Homo sapiens: one gene and its partners. The protein of the gene in region 2 purifies or fractionates together with the protein of the main gene of each other region. This does not show direct contact. Each region holds a gene or a part of one and is shown on either strand. Other genes may lie near its edges. The genes, in order: CHORDC1, C11orf58, KYNU, SLX4, HMGN5 and WDR1.

Evidence for each region.
Region 1: the proteins of C11orf58 (region 2) and CHORDC1 fractionate together in Homo sapiens (co-fractionation; one large-scale study listed by BioGRID). This does not show direct contact.
Region 3: the proteins of C11orf58 (region 2) and KYNU fractionate together in Homo sapiens (co-fractionation; one large-scale study listed by BioGRID). This does not show direct contact.
Region 4: the proteins of C11orf58 (region 2) and SLX4 purify together in Homo sapiens (co-immunoprecipitation; one large-scale study listed by IntAct). This does not show direct contact.
Region 5: the proteins of C11orf58 (region 2) and HMGN5 fractionate together in Homo sapiens (co-fractionation; one large-scale study listed by BioGRID). This does not show direct contact.
Region 6: the proteins of C11orf58 (region 2) and WDR1 fractionate together in Homo sapiens (co-fractionation; one large-scale study listed by BioGRID). This does not show direct contact.

Annotation. Positions count from the first base shown.
Region 1 is NC_000011.10:90,199,929-90,202,989, reverse strand, and holds the end of CHORDC1 (cysteine and histidine-rich domain-containing protein 1), read left to right. Parts: intron 1-114; coding exon 115-177; intron 178-438; coding exon 439-585; 3' UTR 586-2,561; downstream 2,562-3,061. UniProt on the Homo sapiens protein: Regulates centrosome duplication, probably by inhibiting the kinase activity of ROCK2. Proposed to act as co-chaperone for HSP90. May play a role in the regulation of NOD1 via a HSP90 chaperone complex. In vitro, has intrinsic chaperone activity.
Region 2 is NC_000011.10:16,737,214-16,741,453, forward strand, and holds the start of C11orf58 (small acidic protein), read left to right. Parts: upstream 1-1,433; 5' UTR 1,434-1,565; coding exon 1,566-1,628; intron 1,629-2,342; exon of another isoform or gene 2,343-4,240.
Region 3 is NC_000002.12:142,876,315-142,880,601, reverse strand, and holds the start of KYNU (kynureninase), read right to left. Parts: upstream 2,939-4,287; 5' UTR 2,866-2,938; intron 1-2,865. UniProt on the Homo sapiens protein: Catalyzes the cleavage of L-kynurenine (L-Kyn) and L-3-hydroxykynurenine (L-3OHKyn) into anthranilic acid (AA) and 3-hydroxyanthranilic acid (3-OHAA), respectively. Has a preference for the L-3-hydroxy form. Also has cysteine-conjugate-beta-lyase activity.
Region 4 is NC_000016.10:3,580,586-3,584,250, forward strand, and holds the end of SLX4 (structure-specific endonuclease subunit SLX4), read right to left. Parts: intron 2,926-3,665; coding exon 2,512-2,925; intron 2,109-2,511; coding exon 1,757-2,108; 3' UTR 596-1,756; downstream 1-595. UniProt on the Homo sapiens protein: Regulatory subunit that interacts with and increases the activity of different structure-specific endonucleases.
Region 5 is NC_000023.11:81,114,914-81,118,413, forward strand, and holds part of HMGN5 (high mobility group nucleosome-binding domain-containing protein 5), read right to left. Parts: intron 1,429-3,500; coding exon 1,291-1,428; intron 318-1,290; coding exon 1-317. UniProt on the Homo sapiens protein: Preferentially binds to euchromatin and modulates cellular transcription by counteracting linker histone-mediated chromatin compaction.
Region 6 is NC_000004.12:10,076,221-10,078,902, forward strand, and holds part of WDR1 (WD repeat-containing protein 1), read right to left. Parts: coding exon 2,671-2,682; intron 2,473-2,670; exon of another isoform or gene 2,391-2,472; intron 1,707-2,390; coding exon 1,533-1,706; intron 1,229-1,532; coding exon 1,084-1,228; intron 1-1,083.

The DNA of each region.
Region 1 (3,061 bases), about 73 Mb from region 2:
CAGTTTCTTAAAATAGCTTAATTCATTTTTGTCAGTCTTATTTTTATAATCAGTGTTTGATAGCATAAATCTTCAGTTTGAATTAGATCAATTAACTGTGTATATCTTTTTCAGTTAAATGTGCATATTGTATTTGAAGGAGAGAAGGAATTTGATCAAAATGTGAAATTATGGGGTGTAAGTATTACAAATTTATAAGAATTTTTTTTCTGATAACTTAGATCATTTGTAGAATAAAAGACAATTCTTCAGTAAACATTGATGCAAAGTATAGATGTATAACTTAACAGTGTATCCTACCAAAAAGTTTAAGACTAGATATAAAAGAGGCCTTTAGAAGCTTGGATTTGGGATTATTGGCATAAGCAAGTCTGATGTTTTCCTCTGAGACTAATAAAACTACTGAGGTTTCCTGTAATTCTCTTTGATATGTTACAGGTGATTGATGTAAAGCGAAGTTATGTAACTATGACTGCAACAAAGATTGAAATCACTATGAGAAAAGCTGAACCGATGCAGTGGGCAAGCCTTGAACTGCCTGCAGCTAAAAAGCAGGAAAAACAAAAAGATGCCACAACAGATTGAGTGGGAGATGGAAGGAAGGCTATTACATTATTTCCGAATTTTTAATACTGTGTGAAGTGGTGGCTTGCTGCTGTAATCTTTTGTTTTGTTGTTGTGTTACTGAATGTGGCATTTCAGGGTTAACATTAGGTTCTTAAAAGCCAAAGTCAGTTTGTCTTTTTGTGCCTCTCATCTTTCTTTTGTGTTATGTAAGATTGATTATTCATTTCTCCCTACTGGTAGGAACCATAGTTGTGTCCTATACTTGAAGAGGCTGGAAAGTAGCCCATAACCATAATTGCAGTATTTCTTTGTATTTCTCTGTTAAGCAAAGAAATATTAAGGAACATTTTTTTTATGTTTTTGTATTATTCCATAATTAGTAAAGCAAGATGAAATGTCAAATTTTAATCAGTTTTTTCATGGATTTGTGTTCTTACAGTACTTGAAAATATTTAAGGAAGAGATGAAGCTCTGCAGTTTTTTCTATGTGGGATGATTACTTTTTTAAGGAGGATTAATTCTGAGGTAGTATAGTAACTAAAGGGGAATATATGAATTGTTTAACAAATTAGAATTTGTTTACAACTACTTGAATTTTTAAATTATGTCAAAACTTACATTACTTGCCAAGCAGTATGATGTTATAGGAAACATAAATAAGATTACAGAGGTATCAATTTGGTTAAAATTCACCATTTTATAAGACTAAGCAATAATCTTAACAACCTCTTTCCTGAATATTTAAATGTGTTTGTATGGTGTTATGACTAATTGTTACTGATTTAGAGACTAAGCCCTCTTAAAACCTTTAGTTAAATATAAAAAGAAATTATATATATCTTGCCTCCCTGATGGAAAACTATATAAAATTGTAGACTTAAAAGGTTTGTGGAAATACATTAGGATATCAGAAAACTAAATATATGGAGTTGCTTTATGACTATTACATGTTAAATAAAAATAGCTTAATTGTTTTGGAGTTTTTTTTTAAAGTCATGAAGAGCTTCACAATTCTAGTGATACAATGTTGACTATATATTGTACTTTATATTAAATATAGGTAATACAGAATTAGATCGTTTGGATAGGTTTTGAGTTAGTGCAGAACTCAAGAAGAAAAATTAGGAAATATTCTGAAGGCCAGAACTCTGGAAGAACTTAGAAAGTTTGGGAATAAATTAAACTTATGTAGATTTAAAATTAAAAGGGGTTTATTTCCCAAACCCCTTGAGTCTTTTCTTTTCCTTGGTATTTATGGAATTCTTACAAAGAAAAATTTGCAGAAGTACTATTTTCGTGAATAAAACATATGTATCATTCTACTACCATTAGCAAATAACTTAGTTGTAGTTAATATAATTGTTAAAAGGTTTAGCTCTGTTACAAATAAAAACATAAAGATCTGGCAACCAGACTTTCATGATGTTACATTACCATGACAAGAAACTCTGGGCAGTAAAAGTTGGACCCACATGGAGTACATAAGCATCTGATACCTGGAGATGTATTTAAAATTTTTCAAGTTATCTTCCATGATTTAGGAACCATTTAGAGACATGAAGTCTTTATGGGTTGGGGGAAAGGTTGATAATTAGTTTGATTAAAGGTAATGATTAATATCCCTTTTTGTTCATACTTCCTTCTGAGGCTGTTTTCCCCTAAACAGTATCTTAATCTGTTACATGTAATTGAAATATTATTTGAAGCAGTGAGTTATTGTAACCTCAGATTAGTTACATTGATCAAAACATTGATTTATACACACACACACACACATACATATGTAGCTTTTATATTTAGTCTGGTTACATTAGTGACCATGGTATTTACTTTCTTCTTAAGGAGCCTTTGAATTTCTTGTCCAGATAAAAATCCGAATATTTCTCTTAGACTCATACATAAAGGGACACAGTTATCGTTAGGTAGCATATGTTTTACTATCGGTTTGTCAAAAAAGTTAATAAAAAGTGCTTATTGATTTATTTCTCTAGAAATTTGCTTTGTCTTTTTTAGCATTAAAAATAATTACTATAGCAAAGCAGTCAAAGTTAGGTATATTATATATATACTTGGTAACTAAAGATGGGAAACCTAAAATGCTATTTTTCTTTCATAGCACATTTACTAGTATAAAGGAAGTAAGATCCTAATAAACTGAGCCTTTATTTAACTTCTTTGACCTAGTTTTAGGTTTACAGAAAAGTTGTAAAAATACAACAGTTCTTTATGTCTTATATTAATCTTAATGTTAAAATCTTACGTTATCATAGAACATTTATAAAACTTAAGAAATTAACCTTTGTATAATACTATTAACTAAAGTAGAACATTTTATTTTTACCATCTGTTTTTAGTGGAATTCTTCAAGGTCTTAAGACTTGTCCTACTTTTTTGGTAATAATTTAAGCCAGTAATTTATAAACAATTAAGATATGATTAGGAATCAACAAATGTTTATAGGTTGAAGATGTAACTTCTTGGTGTAACTATACTG
Region 2 (4,240 bases):
TTATTTATTTAGAGACCGAGTCTCGTTCTGTCACCCAGGCTGGAGTGCAGTGGCGCCATCTTGGGTCGCTGAAACCTCCGCCTCCCGGGTTCAAGCGATTCTCCTGCCTCAGCCTCCCGAGTAGCTGGGATTAGAGGCATGTGCCATCATGCCAGGCTAATTTTTGTATTTTTAGTAGAGACGTGGTTTCACCATGTTGATCAGGCTGGTCTCGAACTCCTGACCTCGTGATCCACCCGCCTCAGCCTCCCAAAATGCTGGGGATTACAGGCCTGAGCCATGGCGCCAGGCCTAATTTTTGCTTAAAAAAAAAAAAAATCACATTTGTATTCAAGGTGAGAAAGCTTCAGAATTATTAAGGACAAGGATTCTGACAGAAAGTTAAGTTCAGACCTGGTTACAAATTCAGACACCTTAATAAAGTAGGAGATAGTCTTCAGTATCTGAACAATAAATAGCTTTAAATGCAGGGCTTTTTGAGTAGAGGAGTGATCACTTGAATCTGGAGAGAGGGCGAGAAATGGGGAGGGATTGCTAACGGGCATTGGGGTTCCTTTTGGAGTGGTGAAACTTCTTGGAATCAGAGGTGACAGCTGCACACGATTGTGAATGTACTAAGTGACAGTGGATTGTACACTTTTTAAAAAATGGTTAATTTTATATGTGAATTTAACCTCAATAATTACTTTTTTTAAAAAAGAAAAAAAATAGAGGCTTTTGTGGCAGGGATGGACTTTGCTTGGTGAAGGCCCCTACTGTAACGGTGCCCAGACATCCACAGCGAGGTCAGTGAGGAGCACTCCCACCTCACACAAAGCCATATGAAAACTTAACAGATTTCCCTCAGCTAAATCCCCGTTTTCAACAACCGCCAATTAGCCAACATTTAACAACATACTGAACTCATTTCTGTATGGGAAAACAGCGAAATATTCATGAAAACATTTAGAAAGCAGCATCACCGACCACCTAGAAATCCCCTGCGCGCAATAGAGAACACCAGGGTGGAAATGGTAGAAGCCATTTTTGGTTAAGGTTTTTGTCCTGGGTGGAGGGTATTCGTGAGGATTCAGTCAGCCTCAAACATTACATTTAAACATAGGTGCCTAGCTACGATGATACATTTGCCAGTAGGGCAGCGTTGCACGGTGAAAGGCAAAAACCCCTCTAAGCCTCCTCCTGTGGCGACAAAGCTCTCGGCCAACGCTCACCGCCATACACATCCGCGGGAACGCTTCCTCCACCAGCCGAAGGCGGGGCCTCTGAGGGCACTCCCGCCACACAGCGCGAATTGAGCCTCGGGGCTTCCTGGGAATTGTAGTTTTAGTCACGGACACATCTTTTTTATTCGGGCCAGTATGCAATGAATCAGAAAACTACAACTCCCAAAGTGCCCCGGGGCGGCGAGGGGCCGCAACGGTGACGACTGTGGCAGAGAAGGCCCGGAGGGGCTCTGCGTTCTGTAGTGGCGCTGCTTGGGCCCTTGGCGGATTGTAAGCTGCTGGTTTTGCGGCTGGGAAGAGCGGCGAGAGGGTTCGGCATTTTTCGTCGGGATCCCCGCAAGGATGAGTGCTGCCAGAGAGTCTCACCCGCATGGGGTGAAGCGTTCAGCCTCCCCAGACGACGATGTAAATAATAATGGCGGAGTGGCTGAGGGTTGAGGCCTACTAAAGCCTGGAGTAGGCCGGGAAGGGTGGTTGGAGGAGGACGCGCCTGAGGTGGCCTGCAGCGGGAGAGCCCAGGGAAGAAACCAGAAGAATGAGTGGGAAATGCCTCCCTTAATCTTTATGAGGGTCAGAAGGTTTGAAGAGGCCCACACGCTGAGAGCCGGAGACCTGCGTAGGAAGGGGGATTGAGGAAGGAAATTCTGAGAGGGTCGAGGAGTGAAAGAGCTTAGTCAAGGGATTTCGTACGTGCGTTTTGGGGGGCCGATGAGAGTGCTTTCTCGGGCCTTTGTACTCAGTATAGAGACGGCAAGACTCTCCCTGTTTTGGGTTCTAAATGTTCCCGTGACAATGTCGAAATGTTCGTGCACGTTTGTACAGATTTTTCCTGCCTGGATGATTTTTACAATGTGCTGTTGAGAGTTAACTTTAGCTGCACTAGTAAGGGTAAACCGAGAACAGTATTGAGCCGAAAATTGTGCCACGGGTGTAATTTGGTACTGGCTCTGGTGGTGAGGTCTAAGACGTTGAGACCTAGAAGCCCATTTTGATGTCGGATATTAATACCTCGTTCTTCTTACCTCGTCTCCCCATCAAATGCCGTTCCCTTCCTCAGCCCTCACCTCATAGGTTTTAATAGCAAACGGTTTATCCCTTAAAGTAACCCGTTAAATATTTACTGCACTGCCGGGTGTTGGGAATTCGGAGAGAAATATGATGCTTATTTTAGGCCTTTTTGTATATTTGTCCTAGCTCCTAGCCCAGTGTCATGGAAACGGTAGGTAACCAGTAAACGTAAAACTAGGTCCTTCATACAATGGATAAGTGTCTTGGCAACGTTGATGGGGAAAATTGTTGGAGAGAGCGCGGAGAGGTCATCTTTAAGGAAGATGAAGGGATATCTAGGTTTTTTTTCGGTTTTGTTTAAAGTACTGTCAATTTCTGAATACATAGAGCTTTAAATTTTTCGATAGTGCATTTCAACGCTCTTCATAAAATTTTAAAAGCCCACTGAATACTACTTTGTAGCAAATGAGATAATGTTAAGACCTACCCCTCTGATGGGAGGTGGGGCGAGGACCGGAATATTAAGGATCTTTAAAGGAATCGACTTCAGCTCTGCAGAAAGATTAGCAATCAGTAAAGATTTGGGGATGAATGGGCACCTAGAGAAGTTTATTCTTGCTCTCTGTTATTTCTGCTACTGGATTTTAGATCTTGTTAATATGGTAATTCAGGTTTTGTCAGGAATTGATCCACACTTTTGAGTAACCTGGCTGCCACTTAAAAAGCTGTTACATTGTTTTCCTCCTGATCTTTAAATGTGACTTGATTGCTAGGATATCAGACACCTGTTTGGAAATATCTTTTAGCGTGACAGAAAACTCCAGGTGATATGAAATTTAACAAAGTTAAAGGGATTAAGTCATTAAGTTTACAGCTTCGGAAGAGGTCGGTTTAAACTAGACGACCTTGAAGACCTTTCCCAATCATATAAGCGTATCTTTAAGTACCTGGGTTTTGTTTTTGTTTTGAGACAGGTGAGACAGGGTCTCTGTCGCCCAGGCTGGAGTGCAGTGGCACGATCGATCAGTGCTCCCTGCAGCCTCCACCTCCCTGGCTCAGGTGATCCTCCTGCTTCAACCCCCTCTTCCCCCACCACCACTACAGTAGCTCGGACTACAGGTGTGCACCATTACACCCGACTAATTTTTTGTATTTTTAGTAGAGACCAGATTTTGCCACATTGCCCAGGCTGGTCTCCAACTACTAGACCCAAGCGATCTGCCCACCTCGGCCTCCCAAAGTGCTGGAATTACAGGTGTGAGCCACCTCGCCCAGCCAGTACTTAAAAAAAAAATTTTTTTAACCATAAGTAATGCATTCATTAAAATACCTCCAAGCTGTTGCAGAAAAAAAAAAAAAAACTAGCAGGCCGGGCGCGGTGGCTCACTCCTGTAATCCCAACACTTTGGGAGGCCAAGGCAGGCGGATCACGAGGTCAGGAGATCCAAACCATCCTGGCTAACACAGTGAAACCCCGCCTCTACTAAAAAAATACAAAAAAATTAACCGGGCGTGGTAGCGGGCGCCTGTAGTCCCAGCTACTAGGGAGGCTGAGGCAGGAGAATGGCGTGAACCCGGGAGGCGGAGCTTGCAGTGAGCCAAGATGGCGCCACTGCACTCCAGCCTGGGCGACAGAGCGAGACTCTGTTTAAAAAAAAAAAAAAAAAAATCTAGTTATAATATATAGTTGGGAAACAGTTTCTAATGAGCATCCACGGTATGTGAGAGATCATTGAAGTTTTCTTATGCCCATTGACCTCACATCTAATTGAGGTAACAAAACATTTTTTTACTATTAAAAGTAGATACTAAATCACAATACAACTCTAGAAAAACGCTAACAATGTAGGAGTAAATTCTAAGAGTCACCAGGTTATGTATTGAGGAGGTAAATTGATTGCAGTTCTGTAGTAAAGGGTATTAAGGATGAAAACAACTTAAAAGTCGTTTCATTGGCTTGGAGTGGAGAAATGAAAGCTATCTTATAGGAAGTGGGAAGAGTGGGGAGG
Region 3 (4,287 bases), on a different chromosome or scaffold from region 2:
CAGGAGCTAGAATTTAAAATAATCATAGATAGAAGCTATGAAATGCTAGGGTCTAGGAGGAATACTGTCATAGAATGACTCATTTTTCAAAGTAAAACAGAACCACTGATTGTTAAAGCATGAAAAGCATGAAGTGATTCCAGCAGCAAGTAAGAGTCACTTAGTTACACAATGGCAAGGGATTGAACAGCTATGTCTCCTGAAAAGGTGACAAGACAAGCCCATCTTGCAAGTCACTGAATCCTTCATGCAACATGCTATGTGCAAGTCTCCAGGGGACCCATCTTCTTGGCTATTCCTAAAATTCCATGAGATGTTTTTCTGCCTTACTATCAGATTAGTCTTACTACAAACATATTACTGATGGTAGCTGGACTGAGTTGCTGTTCTACCCTACTGAACTGAACTCTACCTGGGGGCCTGAATCATGTTTAATTTATCTTTATAGACATCTCATTTAGACAGAGTACCCCTGCCGCCAAAGTGGCAGTTCGAGAGAATAAACAAAATTGGTTGATGAATTATTTGACATAATGACATATTACTAGAAGGGCACCCTCTCTCATTCTGACCATATGAGAAAGACTTAGACAAACATTTCTAATGAAATTCAGAATCAAGAGAGCTTGCCTTATATTTGAGACTTTCTTTGGGAGGTCAGCCCTTTGAGTTGATTGGAGGTGACTTTAAACTCTAAGTGGGGTTACTTAAATAAAGAGATTAGTTTGTTACCAACAGATTCTGAATAAAATTCAACTTTCCTTATTTTAAAAATGATACTCATTAGCGTCATTCTATCTGTATCTTATTTAATGCTTGTAATAATCCTGAGGCATCAGAATCCTTTTCCTCTATATTGAGATGAAAACCTGGCACAGACAGAGTAGAAACCAGTGGACTAAAAGGATAGCAGAGTGCACAGTAGGGTACTTAACCATGCCTGAGATGCTGAGTCCATTGTGCTGGTCTTTGGCAAAGCCCATGAATGGAATGCACAGAGCTCAATTCCTCCTCGAAGCCTTGAACCTCTCACTTTATTTTTCCTTGCCTGTTGCTTCCTGATGTGTGTGTGTACGTGTGTGTATTTCTTCAGCTCATTCCCTTTTTCTTTGGCTTCTTTTTTCAGTCCTACACTTAAGCTGCAAAGGACCACAAGCTACGTATGAATTGATTTACCTTTTTAATCCATCCTTCCCAGTCCAGTTTCAGCCAGGCAAAAGTTAAAGTGGCTGGTTCCGCTCCTGGGCCTGTCACATCTGGGGTACCTTGAGATACCTGATGGGCATAGTCTTCCAAATGACTGCACCCTGCCCTACTCCACCACTTGCACAACTTCGCATGGTCTCAAATATAGTCTTTAGTTCCCAGAATAGCATAGTGCACTCACTCTAAGGATGCAATTTATTCACTCATACTAATTGCTGCTTAATTCTGCATTCACCCCAGCAGCTAAGACAATTAGTGTTCACAAGCCATAATGTTATGCCATGTTTAGTTTGCAAATAAAGTGACATGCTCATATTCTGAAAGGAAGAACTTAAATCCAAACTTTTAAAAACTTCAACTTTTACATATTTTACAAATTTTCAAATGTTACATATTTAGTGTTAATTTTATCAAGACGGGGGACATACATACCATATGGTCTCAGACAAATCACCTAACTGCTCTGTATGTCAATGTTATTTAAAGTTAAATTTTACTTTCTTCAAAGGATTATGGTTAAGCTCAAATGACATTAGGTCCTTTATAAAAAGATAAAAGATAGTTTGTAATATTTTTTTAAATTATCAATACCTTCTGATGGACAGCATCAATGTGCCTTCGATTTAGGTTTGGAAATTGTGCTTTCACAATTTTATTTAGACAGCTACAACTTTAAAGTAAAAAGCTTGTATAATAATTAAAAACTGATTGATTTTAACGAAATCACAGAATTCAGAATCTCCTAGTCACCCACTGATTTAGGGCTAAATAGTTAAATAAATGACTGAGTGTCTGGTAGTTAATCTTTACACAGTTTCACATTCATGCCTGAAATAAGCAAATTGTACATAGGAGTTCAAAGTTTAGAACCTGACTTAAAAATATGTTGAGAAAGCGTGTAGTTTTTCATTAGTAAAGAAAAAAGGAAAAACAATATGCATATTGAGCAAGATTCTTTAAGCATATCATTGAGAAATGGGTAACATTACTCTGCTACGAGTGTATATTTCATATCTAGGATATGAATTACTTGCTGAACACGTTAAGAAAATCAATACATTTGCTTCAGTGTTACTACTAAATAACACCCCACTGGCCTCAAAATAAAAGCAGAAAGGAAAAAAGAAAATCTAGTATATTTTTAAAAAGTGTATCAACTTTCTTTTCTTAGGTTTCATAAAATGAAAGGGGAAGAAACTCTGTTCAAGAGTAGGCATTTTCACTTCTCTAAATAAATATTTAATATGACTACTAGCAGCATAAGACAATTAAAGTTACCAGAAAACAGAGGACTTAAAATCTGTTTAAGAATATCTTTCCCTCGTCTGGAGTTTGACCTAATCTTACCGCTTAAACTCAAATAAGAACAGGACTAACTTTGGTTTGTCAAATGTAACCATATTCAGTGCACTATGTTCATCAGTTCTTTTCTATTACATTAGTAAAGATCTTTTCATTTAACCCATTTCTAAAGGTGGGGCCTTTAGGAAGGTCATACCATTTTTATTTACAAAAAGAATATATATAAAAAAAGAAGAGAGTAGCAGAAAAAAACCTCTAAAACACTATGACAAGGATTCTAGCTGACAGAAGTTTCATTTGGAAAAAACATGGAGTAAACATTAGGGTAGAGAGTTTTTATCAGCGCCTCAAGCTTACCAGCTAGGATCCCAATGGAGTGTTTGGCTCCCAGAATCTCTCCAAGAACCTCTCAAGAATTCCTTGAAAATGTACAGGCCAGATCTTAGGGTGAGAAATTCAAAGAACTGCTCAGACTCCACCCAGTGGAGAATTTATAAATATTTTACTTTACTTCCTCTCCCCTAACCAATCGGTAATCTCCAGCCACTGTCAGAAATTTAAGCAACATGTGCTCCTGCCCACCATTTCAAATGCCAGAGCCTCCAGTGAGGGCTTCTTTCCAGAGGCAACTTTGCTCTTTAAACTCAGGTAAACACACACTTGTCCTTTAACTATATAAATCTCTGACCCCTGAACTGATGAGTTGGTCTTAGAGCTAAATTCCAAATTTTGCCTTTCTTCTTCACTTTGAGCTCTGGATTTTTGAGACAATACCCTCCTTCAAATACACTGAGGATTTTCAGTCTGATGGTTGAATCTATGACATTTAATGGGTAAACTTTTTAGTCAAAAGTTTAAAATAGGCTCTCAATTCCAGAATACACTCTATTGCCTAATATGTGAGTTTTCAAAAACTCCTAGGTAATAAATCTGGACAGTTAACAAGACAATGAAGGAAGAAAGATCTGAAGATTCAAGTGGAAACTAGCCTGGCAAACTTCATTAATGCAAATTATTCATTTAAGTCTGTGAATTGTCTTTTGTTCTAGTCTGACTACCTCTTTAGGCTTATTCCTGAGCTTGGGTCTTTTGATGAATATCCTTGTAGTTATAAAAACTAAGAGCAAAGACTTTCGATATTAGGACTAGGGATGAAGAATGTGCTTGAATAATTGAATGACTTATGCACACCTATGCTTTATTTAGTAACCCACAACAAATCAAGTAAAGTGTCATTTAATCATTTCTATCAAGTGTTCATTGTATAACCCTGAGCAATTCACTTAACCCTTGTGGAGGCTCAGTCTCCTATTTATCAAATGAACTTAATAATACCTTCCTCCCAAGATTACTGAAACGATAAAACCATGCAGGTTGAAGGCCATAGATACCATGACACTCAAGTCAAAAGTGACATATTGTCTTTTTTTTAATCTTAAGTAACCAGACAAAAAGTACTACTCTCCAGTTTCCAAGAGAGGGAGATAAAGTGCATGAAATTGCTTTAATACGAGTAATTGACCAGTGAAAATAAAATATATTTCACTTCATTGATCCTATCCTTACAATAATCCTATAAAGTAAGTAGACTACCAATTGATTAACTTAGAATAGTAAAAGTTTGAATCCATTCAGGAAATTTCAGAAGGTGTACTTTTTTTGCATCTATTCTGTGTATGCCTCATGCTGTAAAAACTTTGGAAGATTACCAGGCTCTAATATATGGGGAGCGAACCAGAGGGCGGATCTGTGTCATTTTTGTGTCACTCTTTTAAAGAC
Region 4 (3,665 bases), on a different chromosome or scaffold from region 2:
TGTTCGCCCCGGGCACCGTAAGCTGGGAGGCCTGGGCCTCTCCGCTGGTTCACGTGCCAGGACATAGTATGTGCGCCAGAAATCACATTTCACCCCCTAAATGCTGCTGAGCCCTAAGATGCAGCTCACAAACCCCTCTTCTGGGAGGCTGTCCCTGACACGGCCCTTCAAGCCACTGGAGCCCGACTCCCCACCAGGCTGGGATAGGCCAGCGTCTGTCTCCTCCACTGGACCGGACGCAATGGTAAAGGCATGTGCTGTCTTGGTGAGTTGTGGGGTGGGGCCTGAATCTGCTTTTGTAGCAACTCCCGGCTGAGGCAGCAGCTGGGGGTGCTTGGGCCCCACTTTGAGGTGCGGGGGCTGGAGCTTGGCACCCAGCCAGGGCTCTGTTGGATACGGGTGTGTGGATTAATGGATGAACATCTGCATCTCTGGTCTGGGAACTGAAATGAGGAGACAGCAGGCCCAGGTTACTCCAAAGTAAAGGGCAGGTGCAAGGTGGGGACTTCTGCAGGCGTGGGGCACGGGCTGAGGGGCCACGGTGCCTCCAGGTCCCCCGTTTCGCTCGTGGTCTCCCTGGAGTGTGGCAGCCAGATTTTAATAAAGCCTTTTTGGTTTATTGCACATCATATAAAACTGACTGCACTGTATTTGAAACAGACGAGGACATTCACAAGGATGGAGAAACCAAGGTTTCCTTCTTTCCTGGCCCTCATCTTCCTCCACACTGCTCCTGAGGCTGGAGGCAGCTTTAACCCAAAGAATGGAATCCGCTAGTGAACATGTTTGTTTTGTGGTGGCATCAGAGTTGTTCTGGGCCCTTGTGCACTGTCCAGTTTGGAGACTGCTGGTAACAATGACAAGTGTCCGGGTAGCACGGCTGGGTCAGGAGAACTGCATCTGGGCTGTGGCAGTGCAGGGAGCCTCAGGACACCTGGTCTCAGGCTGGCGGTGGCTGGGGTTGGCCTGAGTGCTGAGGAGGACGGGCCCGGGCTGCCGGGGCAGGCTGGACCTGACGTCCATCTCAGGACAGACATGTAGGGCAGCTGTGCCCAGGACTGGTGGGCTCAGAGGGTGGCAAATGTGGCAGAATAGGCCATGCCCTGGCCAGCTGGTGATGGCCCACTGCCCCCTGGGACAGCTGAGGGCCCTCTTGGGTTAAGGGAGACACACTGGGCCGGGCGCAGTGGCTGGCGCCTGTGATCCCAGCACTTTGGGAGGCCGCAGCAGGCGGATTGCCTGAGCTCTGGAGTTTGTGACCAGCCTGAGCAACATGGTGAAACCCCGTTTCTACTAAAATATAAAAAATCAGCTGGGCGTGGCAGCGTGTGCCTGTAGTCCCAGCTATCTGGGAGGCTGAGGCAGGAGAATTGCTTGAACCCGGGAGGCGGAGGTTGCAGTGAGCCGAGATTGTGCCACTGCACTCCAGCCTAGGTGACACAGCACGACTGTCTCAAAAAGAAAAAAAAAAAGAAAACCAAAAAGGGAGACACACTGTGAGCACGGACAGAGGAAGGGGCTGGAGTCTGTAAATCCAGTGGGTGACATGCTCCAAATGCCACCCTAGAAAGCAGAGCCCAGAGGAGGAAGCCCTGGATTGGGCTGTGGTCATCATCACAGCGCAGAGCTGATGTGGTCCCCAGGCCCAGAAATGCCTGTGGAGGCCTGACCCACGCTGGGTGTCCCAGGTCCTCCCTGCAAATGGCGGGGGTGGGGGCTGCTGATGGCAGGTTGGGGTGGGGTCGGGATGGCCCCATCAGTTCCGCTCCACCTTCTTCTTGCCCCGAGGCTGCCGCCTCCTGCCCTGGAGCTTCTCCCTGCGGGTGGCGGCAGTGGTGAAGGTGATACAGTGGGTGTCCAGGAAGTCCAACAGCCTGCGCGAGGACACACGGAGGCCGTTCTGCCTCAGCTCTGCCTGCAGCTCCCGCAGCTCAAAGGGCTGGTACAGCAGCACCTTCTGGTACAGGGCCGGCTTGGAGCGGATGTAGCACCTCAGCGCCTCGTCTGTGTCCGCCGCCTGCACGGCTGCCTGCGAGGCACTGACCTCCCCCTCGCCCTCCTCTTCACCTGCAGACTCAAATGCCGCTCCAAACTCACAGGAGGAAGAACTGAAAAGAGCCAGACCAGGACGTTGTGCAACCCCTTTCTCTCCAGCCCCTGAGACCATGAGCCTCTTTAAAGGAAGGAAGGTGTCTACGGGTCCCATGGAGCCTGGCCTGTGGCACGATCCCCAGCAAGGCAGGACGGGCCTGAGAGATCCCTGCAGGCTACGCCAGCGGGATCCTGCCCCAGCCAGAAATGTCTAGCATGTGGGGCAGGAACCAGGAGGCCTGCGCAGGGCTGGGGTCAGGGAACCAGCCCCCTAAACCCACCTGGTTTTCCCACAGGTCAAACCCAGAAGGTGACGGGGGTTTTTGAAGATTGGCCATTAGGTCTCACTCGTGCCAACCCTCACGCCCACGGGCCAGAGGATACATGAGGCCACTGACCCCATCGCATCCATCCGGTTACCTCTGTGAGCTCAAGGAGCTGTCACTGCCATCCACAGAGGTGGCCACGGATTCTTGAGAGGCTGGGATCTGGGCGTCATCATTGAGGCCTGGAGGTGCCTCCTTGGTGGGCGACCTGCTTGGGGGTGTGATGCTTTCATGATGCTTCCTTTGATGTCGGGGGCCCTTGGTCTTAGCAGGTCCCTTGGGCCTATGGGCCCCAGGTCCTGTGGTGGCCTCCTGCTGGGCATGGACCCCTGCCCTTGAAGGCTTGTAGGTCTGGGAGGCGAGGGTCTGGCAGTGAGGCGCCTGCAACAGCGGCTGTGAGGACTGGCTCTCGTCCTCGGAGTCTGAGTCCAGGGTCTGGTGAGTGTACTGGAATATCTCCTTCAGCTTCAGAACCATCTGGCGTTTAGGCAGAGGGCGGACTCCAAACCTGACGGAGGAACAGGTGGATCTCAGGACCCACCCACACAGCTGGTCCACACTCCACGTTCCCTATCTTAGCAAAGAGTGATACCCAATGCATTCAGCGAATGGCTTGTGTGACAAACCATAGATGCCTGACTTCTGTGAGCATCAGAGGTTAGTGTCTATTCTAGGCGCCAACTAAGCTTACTCTGAATATTCCAAAAGAAACATTGCCAGCCAGGCACAATGGCTCACGCCTACAATCCCAGCACTTTGGGAGGCTGAGGCAGGAGGACAGTTTGAGCTCAGGAGTTCAAGGCCAGCCTGGGCAACATAGCAAGACCCCGCCTCTACAAAAAATACAAAAATTAGCCAGGCGTGGTGGTGTCACCTGTAGTCCCAGCTACTAGGGAGGATGAGGTAGGATCGCTTAAGCCCGGGAGGCTGAGGCTACAGTGAGCCAAGATCACATCACTCTACTCCAGCCTGGGCAACAGAGTGAGATCCTGTCTCCAAAAATAAAAAATAAACAAAAGATATGCTGCTCCCAGTTCTGAGGGATGGTGGCAGCAGCAGCTTCCCCGGGTGCCCGAGTGGAAGAGCAGTGTCATGTGGATGTGAGAGTTAAATGTTCTTTTAAAAAAAATCAGGCCTCCGCCGGGCACAGTGGCTCACGCCTGTAATCCCAGCATTTTGGGAAGCCGAGGCGGGTGGATCACGTGGTCAGGAGTTCGAGACCAGCCTGGCCAACATGGTGAAACCCCG
Region 5 (3,500 bases), on a different chromosome or scaffold from region 2:
TCTTCTCCTTTCTCTTTTCCATCTTCTCCATTTCCTTTTCCGTCTTCACCTTTTTTTCCATCTTCTTTCTCTTTTGCATCTTCTCCTTTCTCATTTCCATTTTTATCCTCTTTTCCATCTTCTTCCCCTTTTTCATCTTTGTCTTCTTTTCCAGCTTCCCCTTTCTCTTCGTTTTGATCTTCTTCATCTTCTTTCTGATCTTCTTCTTCATTTTTTACTTCTGCTGCCACTGCTTCTTTCTTTTCTCCTCCCTTTTCTGTGGCATCTTCAATATTTTCTTCTTTTACTTCCACAATTTCTTTTTCAGAAGCTGGTGCCTGTAAGTATAGTGAAAAGAAAAACAAGATTCTGTCTGTAAATTTAGAACCATTTCCCCTAAATATTTACACTGGATTATATCTATTTCACAGAAAGACTAATACTTCATTTAAAGAAAGTAATTTTCCTGTGAAAGAAGCCTGCTAAATATCACATTATGAGAAAACATTCTAAGAAATGAGATTAACTAAAATATGTCCACGGAAATATCTACAAATAGATATTTGAAACAATAAATACAGAAACACTTATAAATACTTTTTATTTCAAATATGAAGAAGCACAAAGTAAATACTTAAAGGATGACATATATTTATTCTGTATCAGCAATTCTTAATGAGGACTATGCATGTAAACAAAATATAGTCCTTGGAAAATAACATATTTTGTTTCTATAATAATGATATTTTTTATGTAAAAATTACTTGAAAAGTACTGTACCAGATATTATAAGATAACTTACAAAAGATTTTCCATATTTGCATATGTTTGGTTTATAGATTTGGTGGCTACACCCATTTTCAGTGTTTTATTACAATACCTAAAAATGTTGTATGCATTAAATATGCAAAATAAGATTAAAAACATTTATATAATGATTTGCTTTGCCATCCACAGAGGAAATAAAAGAATCATAAATTCTGGAAAAGGGATTTACAAATAGCCTGTGTGCTGATAAAAGGAATAAAGATTGGCTTGTATTTAATAAGAAGGTTGTTATGTTAGTACTAAGTCATAATCATTGGCATTGTTCTAGTAACAGCAATGCTAAGCCACTGCTCGCACTACTGGTCCCTCTAAATTCTCATATTTTAAGTTAATTTTATTTTCCTCTTAGATACCATTATACTATAGAACCACTGCTCACTTAATTTTTTTCCAACTTATAAACTAAAAGGCAAATAGGATTTCTTTCAGTTGTACCCATTGTTAAACTTTCAAATAGATAAAACTGTTAACATTAGAAAATACCTCTGTAATTTTGGCTTCTCCATTTTTAGCATTTTCATTGTAGTCTTCTTCAACAACTGCTTCTTGCTTGGTTTCAGCAACTGCTTGGGCACTTGTATCTATGTTTTCTTCCATCATATCACTTTTTGTCTTCATTTTCTGCCAAGCAATATAAAACAATGAAAGTAAATATACAATTTAACTGCTGTGTTGATTAAATGGTCACAATTATTTTACCAGCTGTTGTAATAATTTATGCAAACTCTTTAAAGTATCACATATAAATCTGGTATCAACAAAATTATCATATAATATCTTCATTGTAAATTTCATTGTAAGCCTAAAGCAGGATTAAAAATGAACAATGTTCCCTTGATATAAACAAAATAAATTTCCTTTTAAGTTGAGTGATATAGATGAGAGGCAACCAGTTAGAATGCTGACTAGTTGCTGCCAAGGACAAACTGCTGGCATCAGGTTAGACTGATCAATTAATTCCCTCTGTCTAGAGAGGGTCAGTTTATTTCTGTCAAGTCTAATTAATAAGGAACAGGGTTTTGTTGATCGTTACGCCTCCATTGGTAATAATTAAGAGAAATGCTGTTAGTGAGAACAACAATTTAGATATATTTTTAAAAGACCTTATGGTGATGTAAGTGTTTCAATCTTTGTATCTACAAGTTTGGAATGCCCTGATTCATGACGACTTCACCAAGAAAATTTTTGCCTACCTGTGTATGTAATAGAAAGACCACTGGATTGAGGGGCCGGAAAACCTGTGTTTGAATTCTAGATCTGCCACTTATGTGATGTGATCTTGAGCAAAGGCATAAGTATCTTTGAGGCTGTTATTTTCATATATAAAAAGAGAGTAATACCACCCACCTCACGGGGATGTTACAAGGAGAAAATGAGAAAACACATGAAAAAAATGCTTTAGAAACTGTAATTTGTAATTTAGATATAAGTTATTACTCTTTTAACACATGAGAAACAGAGCCAAGGAGGGTAAAGTCTATGGTTATATAGTATATGTTTTAGTCTAGCCCTATTTTTCTTTTCTTTTCTTTTTTTTCCGTTTTTTTTTTTTTTTTTGAGACAGGGACTCCCTCTGTCGCCCAGGCTGGAGTGAGGCAATCTCTGCTCACTGCAACCTCCTCCTCCCAGGCTCAAGCAATCCTCCCACAACAGCCTCCCAAGCAGCTGGGACTACAGGCATGCCCGGCTAATTTTTGTATTTTCTGTGGTGATGGTGATTTTCTATGTTGCCCAGGCTGGTCTCAAACTCCTACGTTCAAGCAATCTGCCCATCTCAACCTTCCAGAGTACTCAGATTACAGGTGTAAGCCACCACGTCTGGCCTTACTTTTCTTTTTAAAAGAAAATATGCTGTATTTACTGTTTTAAAAACTAGTAAGTTGAATATTTAACCTTATATAATAGTGGACTTGAAAAGTAAAATGCAGAAAAAAAAACCTTCTTTTCTTTTGTCACCATTAAATATATCAATTATTACTAAAACTTCAATTTCCCTAAGTTTAGCAATATTTTTTAATAAAGGATTTCATTTATGAACATAATGACAGTTTATACTTTCTTCAACTACAAAGTGATAGGATTAGATGCTCTCTAATGTTTCTCATAGCTTTAACCTTTTATGATTTCAGGAATTCAATCAATATTCTTATGTATTAAGCAATTAGCAGTAAACTAAATATTGAGATTATATCTATTTCTACATGCCTTTAGCCATAACACCAGAGTATATAAGTCCATACAAAATCAATTGTGTCCATTTAAAATTAACATATGCAAATACATCTTACATATATTATATATATAATTATATATAATCTTATATACTTTGCCAACTGTAAAATATTATCAAATGTTAGTTACTACTTTTATTACAAAGCACAACTTTGGGGTTACTACTGTTTTCACCTTTTGTTTTCCCAGGGAAACAGTATTGTCACTATATGATAGCAAAGGCATGTACATTTAATGGGCCTATCCAACTGAAATTGTTTTGTCTCTACCCAGTGAAAATGTCAAAACACTGTGGACAATCACAAAACAGAACAAATAATCCCCACCCAAGGGGTTTACATGTATCATATGATAGAATATAATATATTACTAACTGAACAAAATATAAGCAAAGTAAAATGATCAGCTGTATGCCATTTCAAAAATTATTTTTGAAAAAAAAAGCAAATTTATTTCAATAT
Region 6 (2,682 bases), on a different chromosome or scaffold from region 2:
TGATGAAGGAAGCCTTGGCCTGCGGGTGGCACAGGTGCCCAGGAGCGCCTTCAACCACCAAGCATGACTTGGCTGTGAGGCCAGGCTTTAGCACTCTGTCCACATCACCAGGCTGGCTCTTTTCCAGATGCAGAACTCAACTATCTGCACGAGAACCCGATGCTGAGGTCACTTCATGTTTGGTGGCCTGTGACCTCACAGTGAAGACACAGACCCCGACCTCCTAATCTCTATCTGACTAGCTCTTGCTGTATTTTTTTCTGGATCCATTTCATTCATGAACTTGTTTGATTCTCACTACCAGACTGGCGATTGCCTTATAAACCAGGACGGACGTTGAAACCTGCTTTGTCTCTCCTCCCTTCCAGACCGGGCTGCCTTCCCTCTTTGCCTGTCCTGCACCTGAAGCCTGCAGCTGGGGAATGGGCTCTGGGGGTGGGCTCAGACATTTTTAAATAGGAAAGGGCCCCATTAATGTTTAACACAAAAGGATGTCTTCAAGGAGAATGGATGAGGGGACTTGACTACACACTAGGAGGAGAGTGGTAGGGGGGCACTCGGGGAGGGGAGGGTTTGGACAACACAGAGCTGCCTTACAATACGTGCATGGCCACGCGGGGACATCACAACCCCCTCAGGGAGAAATGATGACATGCGGGGCTAAATAAAACCTACTGTTACAAATCATTTCACCTGTTTCTTTTTTAAATGTGGCTACCAGGAAATTTCAACGCCACATGAGGCTCACATTATACACTGGACGTGGCTGTCTTAGGGAGGGGGAGACCCTGGTCCCAGGTGGGATTTAAGGGGTGAGTGGGGGAAGTGAAGATGTCAAAAGTGAGGCCTTCACTCAGCTCAGCAGGTGTCCTGTGCATGGGGCCCCCGTGGTCCCTCAGTACGGCCAGCAGCGCAGCTGGTGTTTGCTGGATGGAAGGAGACCCACAACTCTTCCGGGCCACCTGTCTAGAAGCACAGAGGCTACTTAGCCCTGGGGACTGAAGCCAGGGGACAGCCTGTGAGGTGGCCCATGGAGCCCCGAACCATGGGTGGTCCCTGCCAAGGCCTGGGGGCGGAAGTCACCTTGGATCTTGACTCTGGTTTCCGGGTCACTCAGGGTCCAAACATACACCATCATGTCCATGCCACCGGAGGCAAAGTGTTCATTGTCTGGGGACCAGGCCAGGCAGACGATTTTTGCATGGTGTCCATAAAAAACATTGTTCTCCTAGTTGCAGGTTGAAAACAAGAGAGGTGGCAGGTCAGGTTCAGGCCGCAGTTGCCCATATCACCTCGCTTATCCCTCATGGCGACAATAAGGACCGAGGTTTCTCACGCGCTAACTCTATGCCAGCGACCCCTGCAAACCCACTGACTCCTCAGAAGCATGGCACGAGGCACCTGCTACTTGTAGAGGCAAGAAAACTACAGCTCAGACAGGCTCAGCTCAAGGTCACCAAGTCACAGATAACCTCCCACTGCCACCTGCACCGCCCAGCACGGGGACAGAGGAGGAGCCCGCCGCCACTCACCGAGTAGCCGTCAGCAACGCTGAACACTGTGACCACCTTGCTGGCGTCGCACACCGCGAGGAAGGCGCCGTCGTGGGAGTAGGCCACGTCGGTCACGGGGCCCTTGGCCTCTAGGAGCTTGCCCTCATCCTTCAGCGTGGTGCCCAGGATGGAATACAGGCGGACGTTGCCGTCCTACGGCAGGGACAGAGAGGAAGTGAGCCACCCCTGAACACACACACCACACCCATCCTTTGTGAAGGGGGGGTCGAGGGCTTAAGAAACTGTGCCGTTCCCACTGACTGCTGCTCTGCTGGGCCCATGCCAGGAGCTGGGCATGGCTCTTCCCGTGGATGGGCCTGAAACCTACGCAGCTCTATGAAAACAGCTGTTGGTACCTCGGGGCACCGCTGGTCTCATGAGGCCCTCAAGCTGGCTGGTGGAGGAAGCCACTCCATGCCCTGGTCACATCCGGCACCTGAAGGACCTGGCAGCACATAGACCCACCCAGCCCCTAGCATGGAGGGCACTGCCACGCCTGCTGCAGGACTGGGTTATCAGAGGGCTGCCCTCCTGGGCTGGAGAGGGGAAATGAGCTCTTCTACAGAGCACTCAGGACTTGGCCAGGCACACTGTGACCAGACCACACACACAAATTCAAGGGCATGAGAATTATGCCGAGGCAGAACTCAAGGGAAACTGTAAAATGTCTGGTTAGTACCGCACCTTGAAGATGCTGGGAAACTTCTGTCACTCTTCCTTCAACCTGTGAGCCGAGCCCAGCCCCAGGGGATGCCATTCCTTGATTTCCTGACCTGCTACCCTCTTGCGCTCCCCTCCTGCCGCCACTCATGGGGCTGGCTCTGAGGCACAGCTGTGCCCTCCTCGGCACTCCCTCTACCTCACTGTCCACAGTCTTGTGGGCACCCGGGCAGTGAGGTGGGGGAAGTGCCGAGGAGGGGAGGGGAAGGCTCCAGCCCTGGGTGGCAGGAGATGGCGTGGCTGGGCCCCAGAGCAGGTCCCACGCCCCGACTGCCCCCATCCTTCCCCTGACCCCTCGCCTTCCCTGAGACAGCCCCGGTACTCACACAGCTCACACTGTCCCCAAATCACCCAGATACCAAGGACAGAGAGCACGGGGGAGAGGAAAGCGACTTACCACACCCCCAAT